Linked DNA regions of Homo sapiens. The protein of the gene in region 2 purifies or fractionates together with the protein of the main gene of each other region. This does not show direct contact. Each region holds a gene or a part of one and is shown on either strand. Other genes may lie near its edges. The genes, in order: DNAAF1, XPNPEP3 and CFAP418.

Evidence for each region.
Region 1: the proteins of XPNPEP3 (region 2) and DNAAF1 purify together in Homo sapiens (affinity purification with mass spectrometry; one large-scale study listed by BioGRID and IntAct). This does not show direct contact.
Region 3: the proteins of XPNPEP3 (region 2) and CFAP418 purify together in Homo sapiens (affinity purification with mass spectrometry; one large-scale study listed by BioGRID and IntAct). This does not show direct contact.

What each region holds. Positions count from the first base shown.
Region 1 is NC_000016.10:84,172,699-84,176,353, forward strand, and holds part of DNAAF1 (dynein axonemal assembly factor 1), read left to right. Parts: intron 1-1,970; coding exon 1,971-2,024; coding exon of another isoform or gene 2,025-2,030; intron 2,031-2,654; coding exon of another isoform or gene 2,655-2,994; exon of another isoform or gene 2,995-3,234; coding exon 3,235-3,601; intron 3,602-3,655. UniProt on the Homo sapiens protein: Cilium-specific protein required for the stability of the ciliary architecture. Plays a role in cytoplasmic preassembly of dynein arms. Involved in regulation of microtubule-based cilia and actin-based brush border microvilli.
Region 2 is NC_000022.11:40,884,619-40,888,273, reverse strand, and holds part of XPNPEP3 (xaa-Pro aminopeptidase 3), read right to left. Parts: intron 1,962-3,655; coding exon 1,759-1,961; intron 1-1,758. UniProt on the Homo sapiens protein: Catalyzes the removal of a penultimate prolyl residue from the N-termini of peptides, such as Leu-Pro-Ala. Also shows low activity towards peptides with Ala or Ser at the P1 position.
Region 3 is NC_000008.11:95,255,689-95,259,343, forward strand, and holds part of CFAP418 (cilia- and flagella-associated protein 418), read right to left. Parts: intron 1-3,655. UniProt on the Homo sapiens protein: May be involved in photoreceptor outer segment disk morphogenesis.

The DNA.
Region 1 (3,655 bases), on a different chromosome or scaffold from region 2:
GTGGTTCTGACTAGTTGCCTTATCCAAATTCGTGGTGAGAGTTACATTGTATCATCAGTTACATTGTATCTTTATACATTGTATCTTTTCCCCCCTCCGTGGACACCGCCCAGCAGGTAGCTTAGGCTCTCACTGGCCTTCTGGCTCATGGAGGTGTGACGGTTCAGTGTCCCATCCCCTTGAGTGAATGTTTGATCGCAGCCTTGCCTGTCACTCTTCCCTGAAGCTCTTCCCATTTTGTTGACAGTCTCAAATGCTTAGGCCCACAAGAATGGTACCATGGGAATTCACACATTGTCTCACAACCCCCCAAGAACTGTCCTTTGATGGGGCACGAATAGGAGAGGCATTTCTGGGTACCTCTGACCTTATACCTTGGAGAGGTGGTCCCCTGCCCACTTCCTTGTTAAACTTCTTCTAAACTGGTGTTTCTAATGTTCAAACTTCAGAATTTCACATGGCCCAGTAGGAGTTAAAGTGATCGGCCAGGCATGGTGGCTTACGCCTGTAATCCCAGCACTTTGGGAGGCCGAGGTGGCTGGATCACGAGGTCAGGAGATCGAGACCATCCTGGCTAACATGGTGAAAACCCATCTCTACTAAAAATAGAAAAAAATTAGCCAGGTGTGGTGATGGGCACCTGTAGTCCCAGCTACTTGGGAGGCTGAGGCAGGAGAATGGCAGGAACCTGGGAGGTGGAGCTTGCAGTGAGCCGAGATCACGCCACTGCACTCCAACCTGGGCGACAGAGCGAGACTCCATCTCAAAAAAGAAAAAAAGAGTTAAAGTGATCACGGTCAGAATTCACAGTGGGTTTCTAGTTTTCTGGAGCTATGTAAAAAAAAGAAACAAAGGCCAGGTGTGGAGGCTTACACCTGTAATCCCAGCACTTTGGGAGGCCAAGGTGGGTGGATCACATGAAGTCAGGAGTTTGAGACCAGCCTGGCCAACATGGTGAAACCCCATCTCTACTAAAAATACAAAAACATAAAAAATAAAAAAAATAAAATTAGCTGGGCGTGGTGGCAGGTGCCTATAATCCCAGCTACTCGGGAGGCTGAGGCAGGAGAACTGCTTGAACCTGGGAGGCGGAGGTTGCAGTGAGCCAAGATCTCACCACTGCACTCCAGCCTGGGCAACACAGCGAGACTCTGTCTCAAAAAAAAGAAAAAGAAAGGGACATAATTGGGCAATTTATCTCTCACATTTGAGAACTGACCATATAGATAACTACAACACTAATAGCTAATGTTAATTGGTTTCTTATTATATGGGTGACACCATTCTAAGCATGACTTGTATTGATTGATGTAACCCTTCCTACAACTCTAAGCAGTACATACTATTATCATCCCAATTTCCCAGATGAGGAAAATGAGAAACAGAGAGGTTAGGCAACTTGCCCAAAGCCAGACAGCTAGAAAATGGTGGTGGGGGAGTAACAACCTAGGCACCGTGGCTCCAGTTCATGCATCCAACCACACACTATGCTGCCTCCCCAACCACGCACTGGTTGTTATGGACAAAGATACCGAACAAACACCCACAATACAAAACAAAAAAGTCCTACAAGTTTTGGGGAGGTACAAAATATATTACTTTTATACCACATAGAGTTTTCGGACTAGTTTGTACAGAGGTGCATTTGGTTTGGGTCCCATTATTTCCCCCAAGATGAACTGGCTGTGTCTCTTAATAAAAAAGCAGAAAAAAGATGTGGAAATTCTTTAAACACGTCACACCTTGCAAGTTCCCTTTCATTTATTAGATCCAGACACCTGAGGTGGCAACGCTTGCTTTGTGTGTATCTAGAGTTCCTTTTGGTGGGGAACAGGCAGGCGAGTCACCTGAGTGATTTGAGTAACTGTAACTAAGGCTGGGTTGACTGCGTGTTTGCCTTTATCGTGCCTATCAGAACGTTGACAGTGCGTGTACCTCCCTGGTGATGTGCGGCTCACTTGCTCTTTCAGGACCTACCTGACTTGGAAGATGATGATGAAACAGGCAAATCTCTGGAAGACCAGGTTAAGGTCATTAGAAACCATTTTCCCACAGGCAGCTTAATTCCACCTTCGTTCTTGTCGTTTACCGTTTCTCTCCTAAACTTGAAAGTAAAATGTTCCCTGTGCATAAAGCATTGAATTCCCCCATATTCTTTTTCTTTTCTTTTCTTTTCAGGCAGAGTCTGGCTCTGTCACCCAGGCTGCAGTGCAATAGTGTGTTCTTGGCTCACTGCAACCTCCACCTCCTGGGTTCAAGCAATTCTCCTGTCTCAGCCTCCCAAGTAGCTGGGATTACAGGCATGAGCCACCACGCCCAGCTAATTTTTGTATTTTTAGTAGAGATGGGGTTTCTCCATGTTGGCCAGGCTGGTCTCGAACTCCTGACCTCAAGTGATCCACCCGCCTCAGCCTCCCAAAGTGCTGGGATTACAGGCGTGAGCCACCGCACCCAGCCCACATCCCCCATATTTTCACCTTGCTGAAGGAAATGCCATTTGTTCTTGTTCAATTTCTTTAAGATTTTATGATGAACCACTTGAAAATCTATTGCTGGTTTGTAACAGCTGAGTACAGTGCATAGTTAGCTGAAAGTACTTTCTGTCATTAAGATGTATTTCTATGTCCATCCTATGAATGTCTGTCTGAATATAGGGGAAGGAAATGAAAACAGGAGAGGGGAAAGAAAGGGGTGAGTCTGTGAGGCACAATGGGGAATTCTCTCAGAGTGACGTGACCCTACTCCACCCAGAGGCCATTACTGGCATTACCAGGAGCCCACACGTGCCAGACCCGTACCCTGAGGGAGAAGGAGGCATCAGCCATCATCTCTGAGCACGAGCTCAGCAGCAAAGAAAACAGACACAGTTACTGTGGGGGGCCTGCTGTCCAAGGAGCTAAGTCCCAGAGAGTCTGTGAAGGAAACGGGGTTCAGGGGCATGCCAAGCAGAGCCCAGGGCTCAGGGGTGCGCCCTCTCAGGTACCAGGAGGGTGAGGAATAGCCAGTGGCTGGGGGAGCAGAGGGCAGAGAGAAGGGCATAGACATGAGCTGTGCCCAGGGAGTGGCCACCCCCAGGCCTAACTTTCAGAGTCCTGTGTTCCCTTGGGCCTTTCTTGGATGTGGCAACAGAATACTTTGTGACATTGGGTGAAAAAGCAGAACTGGCATGGTGCATTGTAGAGCGATTCTGTTGTGAAAACAGAAACTTTCAGACACCTTTTCTTCTGTAAATAGAATATGTGCTTTCCGAAGATTGAGGTCATCTCGAGCTTGAGTGATGACAGTGACCCTGAACTGGACTACACGTCACTCCCTGTGCTGGAAAACCTCCCCACAGACACTCTGTCAAATATATTTGCAGTCTCTAAAGACACCTCAAAGGCGGCTCGGGTGCCCTTCACAGACATCTTTAAAAAAGAAGCTAAGAGGGACTTGGAAATCCGAAAACAAGACACCAAGTCCCCAAGACCCCTGATCCAGGAGCTCAGCGACGAGGACCCCTCTGGCCAGCTACTGATGCCCCCCACCTGCCAAAGAGATGCTGCACCACTCACTTCCAGTGGAGACAGGGACAGCGACTTCCTTGCAGCCTCTTCTCCGGGTAAGAGCGTGGGGCCGAGAGCACAGTGGAGACAATGTTGGCTCCCCGGCCTGG
Region 2 (3,655 bases):
AGACTCTATCTAAAAAACAAAAGTGAAATTCTAATGGAAGAAATTTAAAAACATTATGCTAAGTGAGATAAGCCAGTCACAAAAAGCCAAATGTTGTATGATTCCATTTATATGAAGTAGCTAGAATAGGTAGATTCACAGAGAAAGTAGAGGTTACTGGGGGCTGGAGGAGGGGAGAATGGGAAGTTATTATTTATCTGTACAGTTTCTATTTGGAATGATGGAGAAAGTCGGGAAAAAGTGGGCACAACAATGTGAATGTACTTAATGTCATTGATTTGCATACTTAAAAACGGTTAAAATGATATATTTTATGTTATGCACATTTCACCACAGTAAAAAGATTTTTTTAAATTAAGTCAATGGCCAACACCTTGGAGAGAATAAATGAAATAGGGAGTTTTGGGATAGTTTCTATCAGTTTGCCAGTGAGATTTATGGTTTACACTTGGTCTCTGTGAAAACTCTCGGGGGGCTTTACTGTTACGTAGCAGGAATATGATTATGTGACCAAAAAAACAAAAATCCCTAGCTGAGATTCCATTTTGGAGTCTCTGATTCTGAGGTAGTCTGTTGCATGTGCCATGGACTGAATTGTGTTTCCCGCAGAATTAATGTGTTAAAGCTCTAATCTCTATGTCTTTAGGAGGTAGTTAAGGTTAAATTAGGTAATTAAGGGTGGGGCTCTAATTTGATAGGACCATGGCCTTGTAAAAAGGCCCTCTTTCACTGTCATGTAAGGACACAGCAAGAAAGCCGCCTTCTGTAAGCCGGGAGAGCCCTCACCAGAAATGGACCATGATGGCACCTTGATCTCGGACTTCCAGACTGCAAAATTATGAGACAATACATTTCTCTTGTTTAAGCCATGCAGACTGTGATATTTTGTAATGGCAGCCTGAGCAGAGTATGACAACACTGGTGATTCCTAATCTGTAAGAGAAAGATACATCCTGCCTGGCCCTCACCTAGGGAGGACCAGAGAAGCCTGCACCTGGCTTCTCTAGACTCCTTGCTTTGAGACAGCCATTGGCTGTGATATATATCCTTACTTTCATATTATGGTTATTTTTTACCCTTTTCCTATAATAAACTGCAGATCTGTAAGCATTGTCACTTTGGGTCCTGAGTCTTTCTTAGAACCAAACTGTTTAACTGACACTATTAGTGTAACTATAAGGAAAAGAAACAGTATTAATTTCTGTCGTTCTAAGGAGAAATAATTAAGATTGATGGGTAAAAGAACCATCTTAACAGAAGGCAGATTTACTTTGTCTTGCAAGGTATTAAGCAAGTCTCTAGGTATGTTCACTACACACTGGAGCAGAAGCTAGATGCCATTCTGCGGTGAGGAGACTGCTGCATTGGGTATACGACCTCAAGAGCTTACGATTTTTCCAATCTGGAAAAAACTTTTTCTTTTTTTCTTGTTTTTTTTTTTTTTTTTGAGATGGAGTCTCGCTCTGTCGCCCAGGCTGGAGTGCAGTGGCCCGATCTCGGCTCACTGCAAGCTCTGCCTCCCGGGTTCACACCATTCTCCTGCCTCAGCCTACCGAGTAGCTGGGACTACAGGAGCCCGCCACCATGCCCGGCTAATTTTTTATGTTTTTTTAGTAGAGACGGGGTTTCACCATGTTAGCCAGGATGGTCTCGATCTCCTGACCTCATGATCCACCTGCCTCGGCCTCCCAAAGTGCTTGGATTACAGGCGTGAGCCACCGCGCCCGGCTGGAAAAAACTTTTCAATAGGAATCATACCTGTGATGTCAGCTTCCCAGCAATCTGCATTCGTTCAATTTCTGCAGGAGACTTGATCAGCCGGAGGCGCTGTATCAGCTGCTGAACACCCCGAACCTTGTTCTTGCTCTTGGCTTTGGCCTCAGTCAGGGGCTGCATATAGTCAGAGTGAAGCTGTGCATGTGAGGGCCTCATCCAGTCATACCAAACCATGTTCGTCTCAGCTTAGAATGAGAAGCCGAAAAATAAATTTAAAACAAAACTACCAGCAACAAGAAATATCAACTGTCATAACGACTTGAACAAGAGTCAAAACTATAAAACCTGTAACGTGGAACTCTAAAGTGTTGAGACTTAAGACTCTCTCAGGACTGAAGCAATAAAGGTTTGATTATAAATCATTAGAAAGGTCATTCCCTGGAAATGGCAAGATATTCTAAGACTGAATATACAGCTTTTCTGCCCCTAAACTTCAGTGTTCTTTATAAAGGATGATACGGGACTAAAGCTTTAGTCAAGCTTTGATTTTCTCTCTTTCTCTCTCTCTTTATTTTTGAGATGGAGTCTTGCTCTGTTGCCCAGGCTGGAGTGCAGTGGCACAATCTCAGCTCACTGCAACCTCCGCCTCCCAGGTTCAAACGATTCTTCTGCCTCAGCCTCCCAAGTAGCTGGGACTACAGGTGCCCGCCACCATGCCCAGCTAATTTTTGTATTTTCAGTAGAGATGAGGTTTCACCATATTGGTCAGGCTGGTCTCGAACTCCTGACTTGTGATCCACCCGCCTCAGTCTCCCAAAGTGCTGAGATTACAGGCGTGAATCACCATGCCCGGCCTTCATTATTAAACAATTAGAACAACTGTTCTTCACCACCACTTACTGAGCTAGAGGCACTTGTTGAATAATTGCACACAGAAGGACAGAAAAACATACTCAGATCATGACTTTATGGGTAAAGTGTCCCATCCTTTCACATAATGATCTCAGTACTAGAGGAAAGGGTTCTCCTCCCATTCTGGAGCAATTATTCATTGCTATGGAAAAACTACAGTTGATATTTCCTCACTTCTCCCTTTGCATCTGCTATACATTCTCTTTGTAAACAATCACAGTTCAGCTTTCAACTTTAGAGACCTAAGGAAATGGTCTGTATTTGCCTAAGATATACGATATAAAGGCTCATTATAAAAATGATTTGCACTTAATATCAGATCTACATTTGTTCTTTTTTTCTAACAGTAGGCTACAAACAGTATTCCTAACAATCCAAGTGAGAAGGTCTGAATATTTTATATGACTAAAAAGTACTTTGGGGAAAGTAGAGGGGAAAAAATCCAGAAAACTTTGATTGGATATGCACTGATTCTATGATTCTATGTCCTATGTGATTCTATGTCCTACATATTTTCATTTTTAAAATAAAAATGGTTCTAAATATATACTACATGGGAAACACCTTCCTACTTACGATAGATGGAAATTTAATTGTCGTGTAATTTTTTTTTTTTTTGAGACGTAGTCTTGCTCTGTCACCCAGGCTGGAGTGCAGTGGCGCGATCTCGGCTCACTGCAACCTCCACCTCCCTGGTTCAAGCAATTCCCCTGCCTCAACCTCCCAAGTAGCTGGGATTACAGGCGCATGCCACCACGTCCAGCTAATTTTTTCGTATTTTTAGTAGAGACGGGGTTTCACCATGTTGTCCAGACTGGTCTCGAACTCCTGATCTCAGGCAATCCACCTCCCTTGGCCTCCCGAAGTGCTGGGATTACAGGCGTGAGCCACTGCACCCGGCCAATTGTTGTAATTTTTAAAAAGTAAAACAATCTCTACTACACGTTCAAAGTGTATGAAATCATAGCTCACTTTTTTAAAGGTTTTTAAACCTTTCAATAAATATGATTTTAGCCAGGCACGGTGG
Region 3 (3,655 bases), on a different chromosome or scaffold from region 2:
GTTAATATGTGTTTGATGAATTTAACACAAGTACCTCAATCTCTTCATTTATAAAATGGAGGTAAAAATTCTTGATCAGCATCTTGGGTTTTTCTCTTGTGGAGCAGGTAAGTCAATATGCATATATAAAAAGTGCTCTGGACAGTATAAAGTACTTCACACATAAAATTTGCATATGCAGATGAACACATGTGTTTGTCTTTCTATGGGTGCAAATTCTGTTTCATGAAAGGGGCAACTAATAAAAAATCTGTGAATACAAACATTTACCTGCGCATATATATGCAACTGGTATCTCTTCTTACAGCTGTGCAGGAGGTAGAAATCAGGTATAATTGATTTCGGCATCCCACTTGGACTAATAGTATGTGATAGGAGCCTCGAGCTATGAAAACAGGCTGTTCTTTGGTTTACTGAAATTCCATCTAACATAGATTTTGTCTGTGCTACAACTAAATCAAAGTACGTACAAAATATTTCATACATAAGAAAATCTTAATGAAATGTTTACTTTTTAGAAGTAAACCAGAATGTATTTTTTTAAAAGATCATTTGTAAAAACAGAAGGCACCTGTAATTATATGTATTTCCTGAGATAAAATGGAAAACTAGTAGTAGAATAAAGATTCTTGTCCCTGAGATATAACGTAACAAGAAAGCAGGACTAATGGATGAGAAAGACACCTTAATTAGAACCCAGTGTGCCTGCAGTACCTAGCTGTCTTTTGCACCATAGGCATAGTTTTCATGTATTATTTCATTTAATCCTCAGAGTATCTCCATGAAATATGTTTAGTTTTTAAGAGTGAGGAAACAGGTTTTAGAAGATAACATCCCTTCTTAAGGCTTCAGAGCTTGTAAGTGGCAGAGTGAGGCTTTGAACTCAGGCATTCTGTCATCAGAGCCCTTCCATTTCAGGCCACAGGAGTAATCATTTGCTTCTTTGTTCCTTACTGGCCAGTGTTTTGCCTTTTATTGATAAGCTAGCACAGGGTTTAGGACATGGGCATTCAATGGATTTAAAAAATCGAAAAAATTTAAATAGAAAAATCAATCTGCAGTGTGTGAATTAAACAGATAAGGCAGCAGGAGACATGCATTAGAAGGGAGTGTTGTTCCAGATAGGGAATAAATGTAAATATACTCAGACACAGAAAAACATAAGTGGAAAGTACAGAATGACAAGCATCCCAGTGGCAGTGGAATATCTGACCCAGGCTTTAATTGGAGCTGAAGGAACTAAAGAGAGAAGAGGAACAACAAGGATAACAATTTGGTAAAGCAAATAGTGAGTTTAGAGTTAATGTGAGACAAATGGCAACTCTCACTTCCCTTCTGAATAGAGGAGAGGCACTCAGAATAGTATTTTAGGGATATTATCTTGAATGCTATATGTGGGTGATATTAGAAAAGATGTAAGTGGATGATAACTGGGAAACTGCTGCTGTGGCTCATGGGTGACTTGAGAGATGCCTGGAATAGAGGAGGCATGGCTCTGAAAATGACGGAGACAAGTCCCAACTGAGTTGAGACAGGCAATTTAGGACTGACAGCAACAACACTACCTCTACAGGCAGTTTGTATCTCTAATTTTTTTGTACAGAGAGTCCTCAACACATGGTGATTCAATTACTATTAATTCTTCTTTATAGCTCTAACAGTAGGTAACATTCCAGTGGATTTATATTAGCCTGTTGGCTGCCTGGTGTTCCCATATAAGGCTTCTCCAGACTCCTAATTTCACTTTTGTCCTATAGCCCTACCTTCTGGGCATTGTCCTTCGATGTAGGCTGGCACCACCACAACCCTCCAACAATGTTTTTTTTAACTCCCACTTCTATTATTCAATATAATTAATTTGCCCCAGTGATGTTTTGGTCAATGACGGACCACATATACAACAGTGGTCCTATAGAATTATAACGGAGCTAAATAATTCCTATTCCTAGTTACATCATAGCTGTCCTATATAGCACAATGCTTACTCATGTGTTTGTGGTGACGCTGATGTAAACAAACCTACTGAGCTGCCAGTTGTATAAAAGTAGTGCATACAGTTATGTATAGTACATAATACTTGATAATGATAATAAACTATGTTACTGGTTCATACTTTTACTATGCTATACTTTGAATCATTATTTGAGAATGTACTCCTTCTACTTATTAAAAAAAGTTAACTGTAAAACAGCCTCAGGCAGGTCCTTCGGGAGGTATTTCAGAAGAAGGCACACTGTTACTATGAGATGACAGCCCCATGCGTGTTGTACCCCCGCAACAAAGACCTTCCTGTGGCGCAAGATGTGGAAGTGCAGGACAGTGATATGGATGACCCAGACCCTGTATAGGCCCAGGCTAATGTGAGTGTTGTGTCTTCATTTTTAACAAAAAAGTTTAAAAAGTGAAAAACAGAGCTGGGCGCAGTGGCTCACGCCTGTAATCCCAGCACCGTGGGAGGCCGAGGAGAACAGATCATGAGGTCAGGAGATGGAGACCATCCTGGATAACATAGTGAAACCCCGTCTCTACTAAAAATACAAAAAATTAGCCGGGCGTGGTGGCGGGCACCTGTAGTCCCAGCTGCTCGGGAGGCTGAGGCAGGAGAATGGCGTGAACCTGGGAGGCGGAGCTTGCAGAGAGCCGAGACTGCGCCACTGCACTCCAGCCTGGGCGACAGAGCGAGACTCTGTCTCAAAAAAAAAAAAAAAAAAAAAGTAAAAAACAATGAAACAATAGAAAAAAGCTTATAGAATAAGGATACAAAGAAAGAAAATATTTTAGTATAGCTGTACGATGTATTTTAAATTGTTATTAAAAAGAATCAAAAGTTAAAAAAATAAAAAAATTTATAAATGAAGTTTCAGTAAGCTAAGGTTAATATTATTAAAGACATTTAAAAGTAAACTTAGTGTAGCCTAAGCTACAGTGTTTATAAAGTCTATACTAGTGTAATATCCTAGGCTTTCACAGTCACTCACCACTCATTCACTCACTCAGAGCAACTTCCAGTCCTGCAAGCTCTGTCCATGCTAAGTGCCCTATACAGCTGTACCATTTGAAAAATCTTTTACAATGTATTTTTGCTGTACCTTTTTAATATTTAGATACACAAATATTTACCATTGTGTTACCACTGCCTACTGTATTCAGTGCGGTTACATGCTACACAGGTTTATAGCCTAGTAGTATGTAGTAGGCTAGTATACCACCTAGCCTAGGTGTGGAGTAGGCTATATCATCTAGGTTTGTGTAAGTACACTCTATGATGTTTGTACATGAGGAAGTCATAATGACTTATGACTAATGACATATTTCTCAGAATGTATCCTTGTTGGTGACACTTGACTATACAACAGTTAGCCCTCCAGAAATGTGGTCAACATGCAATCATATAACTTAGGCCATTCTTTCTTAAAAAATTAACAGAAAATAAGTGTTTTAGAAATAATTAGATAAAAGTATTTTAATAAAGTAAGTTAGGTAAGTAGACCTCTGCCAAAAATAGAACCAAAAGCAGCAGGAGAGTAGGGTTTGCTTAAAGCCAAACTGTTTGCCCACATTATGAAAATGCCAATGGAATGTGCTAGGACTATGGGGCTAATATGGGTTTGGGGTAGGTGGCATCATGACTATAAGACTGCCCAGAAAGAGGTAC